Regions from separate parts of the Homo sapiens genome. Here region 1 is linked to region 2. The links come from fine-mapping of genetic effects on gene expression. A gene starts in region 2. The other region holds a variant in brackets. All regions are shown on one strand. Distances are from middle to middle.

What was found. PIP is the estimated chance that this variant, and not a neighbour inherited with it, causes the effect.
Region 1: its variant is the best candidate, but not a certain one, in a credible set for the expression of OTUD6B in subcutaneous fat (GTEx, PIP 0.54).

The regions. Positions count from the first base shown.
Region 1 is chr8:91,204,596-91,207,515 of GRCh38, forward strand. The region is part of intron 7 of LRRC69 (leucine rich repeat containing 69); the gene reads left to right. MIR4661 (microRNA 4661) reads left to right here and starts at 890; the gene lies at 890-964. The variant T/G (reference allele first, on the strand shown) is at 1,306.
Region 2 is chr8:91,069,024-91,071,943 of GRCh38, forward strand. OTUD6B (OTU deubiquitinase 6B) reads left to right here and starts at 1,321. Exons shown (of 7, transcript NM_016023.5): 1 at 1,321-1,443; 2 at 2,115-2,266. The coding sequence starts at 1,362. It overlaps OTUD6B-AS1 (OTUD6B antisense RNA 1), which reads right to left and starts at 1,166. Exons shown (of 3, transcript NR_110438.1): 1 at 908-1,166; 2 at 556-799. RefSeq lists an enhancer at 1,369-1,548.

The DNA.
Region 1 (2,920 bases), 140 kb after region 2:
TATGCTATGTTCCCAAGGATCTCCAGAGCCTGGATTAGGCCTTTCGCCTTTCACAGCCCATGGCCTCCCCAGGGACAATCGATGAGTGCATGTGAATGCTGATAATGTATTCTTACTAGCATTATTAGTTGTTTCATAAGCTTACATTTCTAACTCCTGGATGAGATCATCACTACTTAGGTTCAGAGATACATTATCTTTCTCAAAACTGTAATTGTGAAACTTTCTTTCATGAACTTCACTATATGTGTTGTTCATCATGAGGTTCAACAAGGACAACTTTTTTTCCACCAACTTTTTAGTTTGAGAAATTGGAAAACAACACATAACTTGAATGAATAATACAATGAACATTTGTATACCCTTTACCTAGAGTTGCCGATTTTTAATATTTTTTTCCATTGGCCTTATCTGTTACTGTTTTTTGCCTTTCAGGATGCATCTTGTCCAAAACAAATTTGATATTGACACAAGCCAAGAATGTAGCCTACCTAGAAAGATTGTATTATTACTTTTCAGGGCAAAAATAGAAGAATAGATTCGAATTATAAAAAATATGAATGAATGAATGAATGGATAAATAAAGCTATCCTTCATACCAAGTAGAGAGATTTTATCAAGAGTTACAGTGGATAACACAATATATGAGCCAGAAAATATGTAGGTTATTTTAGCTATACTAACCCACGCTTAGGACATGGAGGCTCACGTTACTGGCCTGTTTACTTTCCAAGAAGCAGAGTACAGATTTTACAACAGCTGCTTTACGTAGTTCATTTATAATCCTGTAGAATGAAATCCAGGAACAGTCATCAGAGTTCACATCACCTGATGTCAGGTATTTACACATCACCTGATGCCAGGTATTCACGTCACCTGATATCAGGTATTTACTCTGAACTAGCTCTGTGGATCCTGACAGACAGCCTGATAGACAGGATCCACAGAGCTAGTCCAGAGTAAAAGACCTAAATCAGCTGTGGTTGTGGTGTAGAGCTACTACAATTTTTCTCACAATGTCCTTTACCAGAGTTTTTGACACTGCCAAGTATTGTAAAATGTTGCATGTGAATTGGGAGACTAAAAGGAAGGCTAGAAGTGTTTTCCTCTTGATCCAGTCATGTACAAATTATGTCTTACTAGACATAACCATGTGTGCTTAAGACAAAAAAATAAAAGTGGAAGAATCTAATCAGAGAAATCATTCTCATCTCAGTTACATGTATATTGGGCTTTAGTGTAGTGGTTGCCTATAAAAGTTCTCTATGAATAAGAAACAGTGATTTAAGTTGTTCAGTTTTTCAA[T/G]ACCTTGATGCTCTTGCTATGGAAATGTCTTTGTCAAAGTTGAGTTGGTGTTTATATCAGAAAGCTTTGAAGTCTTCATGGCATTTAGCAAAATTTGTAGTAATCGATTTACTTGGTGTTGGTGTCTGTCTCTACCACTGAATACTAAGCTCAAGGAATTTAAGAACCATTTTGGTTTTGTTCACCTTTATAGAGAGAGAGCTTCGGACAATACCTGATAAAATTTTATTTCTACAGAATGATAAATCAGATCTGGATTTGAATACCAGCTCCTCCTTTAATTAGTTTGTCAACATATTACATCTCTATGTATCATAAGAAAAATCTGGCAAAGGTGCTGCCAAGGAAGGCTAATGTTAAAATTTTTAAAAGCCCAGAATCTAGAACTAAACAGATAGCCAAAGAGAACATTAAAATAGTGGTTGAGCAGGAATTTGAAAGTTAAAACCAGCTGGACCTTAAATACAAAGAGAAAAGACAGCTCATCGGTGGGAAAATGAGGATAGAAATGTATGTTGGTCCTCAAGATGGGAGTAAATATGTAATCTTGATCACATATGTAGCTATCTGTGAATTGTTCACATTATCATCTGGAATGGATTGTTATATTCAAGAGACATTTAATGAGTACAGCGTGTCAGATTACTCGGAAACAGTTTTCAAAACATCCTGCTTTCCACTGGTGATGTTCTGAACACCTTAGACAAGTTGCCATGTTTAATTGTGCTCTGACAGATTCCCTCTCAAAACCATCTGATGTGCTGCTACTCTTATTTCATGTCTCTCTTTCAGAAACTACAACCTAATACAAGCAACAACAGCCAGAATTTATTTGGTACTGAGTGTGCATCTGGTGCTCTGCTAAATATGTCACCTGGAATACCTCAATTAATGTCCAAAATAACCCCATGACACCAGTAAGAAATCCAAGGCAAGGAGAAACCAAGTAATTTTGCCAATTTCAGAAAGCTGCCAAGTAGAGGATATGGGCAGGGAACTCATACATGTTATTCCTGATCCTTAACCAGAGAGTCTGGGCTATGTTTCCTATGCTTTTCCAACCTAGTTATTCCCCATTTACTTCAGCTGAACTTAAGACATTTATGTTAAAGATCCTTCTTCTGTCCTCATTTATTTATCCACTGAAACTTATTTATTTTTTTCTAACTGTGTGTCAGATTATTTGCCAGGGCTGGGAATACAGAACCCTGATCCTTGAGAAACTCACATGTTCCCAGGAGAAGTGGGATAATAAGGATTGGAATCTGACAAGTTAGGTTTGATGTCCAGCCCTACCACTTGCCACCTGTGTCCTGTTACTTCCCTCTTCAAGGCTAAGCTTCCTCATCCTGTCAAATGGCAATAATAATAATACCCATCACACAGAACTGTGGCTAGGGATCATGAGGTAATGCATAAACAGTGCTTAGTACAGTGGGTGTTCAACAAAGGTAGCATATAGTAGGTGCTTAATAAGTATTTTTTTTTATGTGTGTGTTTTGTAAACCAAGGCTTTCAGACAAGAAAGAGAGAATGATTGCATTCTTGTGATAAGCAGATGTGAAGCTGCACAGGATGCTGTGAGAAGAAGGCATCTCCAGTAAATGGGATAGTC
Region 2 (2,920 bases):
GGGAAAGTTCTTGGTTGATATACTTTCCTAACCCCTGTATATCTAAGAATGTCTTCCAGTTTCCTTTGTAAAGAAATGATAACTTGGCAGAGTATATAATTCTTGGCTCAAAATTATTTTCCCTTAACACTCTAGATATTGTTCCACTGTCTTCTGGCATTTAGAATTGCAGGAGAAAAATCTGAGGTCAGCCTGACTTTTGCCCCTTTGTAAGTAACCTGCTTTCTCTGACTGGATGCTTGTAAAATGTTTCGTCTTTGAAATTCAAAAACGTCACCCGGATATGTCTAGATGCTGCTTTCTTTTCATTAAACTTTAAAGGTATCCTATGAGCCTTTTCCATTTGTAGATCTAGTTCGTTCTTCAATTCTGGAAAATTTTTTCAAGTAGATCCTTTATTGTTTCAGCTCCACTTGCTCTGTCCTCAGTTTCAGGTATTCCTATTATGCATAGATTGTATCTCCTGGACCGGCCCTCTAGATCTCTCTTTTTCTCCTCTTAATTTCTTTTCCCCTTTTCTCTGTATTCTGTGACAATTTGTCGTTTTGCACTTACTTCAGTAATTCGATTTTGTGGCCAATCCAGCGTGCGCCCTTCTGTTAACTCTCTCAACTTCCTGGTATTTTCCAAGCGCTCTAATAGTACCCTCTTTATCATCGCGCATAGGTGTTTAAGCTCCTGTATTATATGATTCTCAATCCTTCTTATATCTTGTTTCCATCTCTATATCCGTTTCAAGAGGAGGCATTTTCTCGATTATTTAGCGCTGCTCCTTTTTTCTCAGGGGCGGTATTACGACCTTGGAGACAATAAACATAATTTAATTCCACACAGCCCCAAACAGCCCAAAGATTCCCATTGATAATTATCGACGGCTTTATTAAAATGCGTTATTTTTCTTTCTTACCTTTTCAGTTGCTTTTCTTAGAAACAGGGACCAAAATCAAAGATTAAAGAGGTCCTCTGAAGCAGGGAATGAAATAGACGTTGAAAACTATTCCCGTTACGCCATCTCTGCGCGCCTCACGTCAGGGCCAAGAGCCTAGCGCGTAGCTTTATGGCTGACTCGGCTCTGGCGCTCTAGCCAATTCCGAGGCTGCAAACTCCGCTTCTCCGCTCGCAGTCTGGTTCCTCCCCTGCCGCCCCGCCCATCACGGCAGGGTCACGGTAGCGCGCACGCGCAGCACCCCATTTAAGTTTCTCGTCTTTGCAGTGGCTTTGCTTAGATCCGGTGCCGCCTTGAAGGCGGGGCTGGGTCCCAGCCGTAGCCAATGGAGCCCCGGGTGAGGGTTGAGGGGTGGAAGGTGCCTACTAGCCGGTGCAGGTTTCTTCTAGCGCGTGTGCTGGGGTACCTGGTCGTCATGGAGGCGGTATTGACCGAAGAGCTTGATGAGGAAGAGCAGCTGCTGAGAAGGCATCGCAAAGAGAAGAAGGAGTTGCAAGGTGAGGCGGAAGGAAGTGGGAATCTGGAAGCCGCCGCGACTGGGGGAAGGGCGCGTGGCGGGTCGATTCTGGGGAATCTCAAGGCGTGACTTATCTGGATCACCCTAGACTTCCCCTAGTAGCAAGTGGCCTCTTCTCTCTTCACCTACCCCGGCGGCCCTTTAATTCCCCAACCTTCAGAGGCTTCCCCTTCTGAGGCCTGCGGCGTGCCCCCTACCCCGCGCCGCCGCCGGGGTGCAGGTGTCTGAAAATACCTAGAAGCCGCCGTCTTGGTCCGCTCCCAAACCCACGATGCCTCCCTTTTCTATACCTGCCCCAGTTACCGATACTTGTCCCTAATGGGTGTATTTTGAATGGACCCGCCTCAGTTTAGGAGGTTCAGAAAGGATACCGGAAAGATTTAAAACTGGCTACAGTCAGGTTTTTTTCCTTCTCTTATCTCGCCAAACAACCGAAACATATTCAAGATTTTGTTAATGAAGTTTTTTTTTTTTTTGGTCTCAGCTTTATCTGGGATCTTCTCTCTCTGTAGCTGCCTGTTACGTGATGACTCTTTCTTCCATAATTACTTTTTCTGTACCCTTCGCCCGTTACCATCCCCTTATTGGTTCCTGTTTCTCATCTCCTTTTACTCCTGCGTGTCTGACTTAATGATTTTAATGGCTTTTCAGCCAAAATTCAGGGCATGAAGAATGCTGTTCCCAAGAATGACAAGAAGAGGAGGAAGCAACTCACCGAAGATGTGGCCAAGTTGGAAAAAGAAATGGAACAGAAACATAGAGAGGAACTGGAGCAATTGAAGCTGACTACTAAGGAGAATAAGGTATGTGAAATAAATGTTTGTCGTTGCCTACACCATTTGAAAACAGCTGTCCACTTCTGTTAAATGTTAAACTGCTTTTTTTTTTTTTTTTGAGACGGTGTCTCGCTTTGCAAAACACGCTCAATCTTGGCTCACTGCAAGCTCCGCCTCCCGGGTTCAGGCCATTCTCCTGCCTCAGCCTCCCGAGTAGCTGGTACTACGGGCGCCCGCCACTACGCCCGGCTAATTTTTTGTATTTTTAGTAGAGACAGGGTTTCACCATGTTAGCCAAGACGGTGTCGATCTCCTGACCTTGTGATCCACCCGCCTCGGCCTCCCAAAGTGCTGGGATTACAGGCGTGAGCCACCGTGCCCGGCCCTGTTAAACTGTTTATTATCTAAAATCATAAAATTGGTAGGGAAATGAAATCACTTAGTTATGCTCATGCATCACTTCTCATTAATGTTTTTGTGACCAAGTTTACAGGGCAGTGTGTTTCTATAAGGGAGATCGGCAAAGAAAGTGCTATACTTCTTTACCTATTTACTTGCCCAAAAGATGAAGCTTCACCAAATCAAAGTTGGAAGACCAGGCATCTGATCCCAGAATTGCGACTGAATGGGATTGTAACCTGAGCAAGGTTACTTAATCTTTCTGAGCTCAAATTTTCCCAC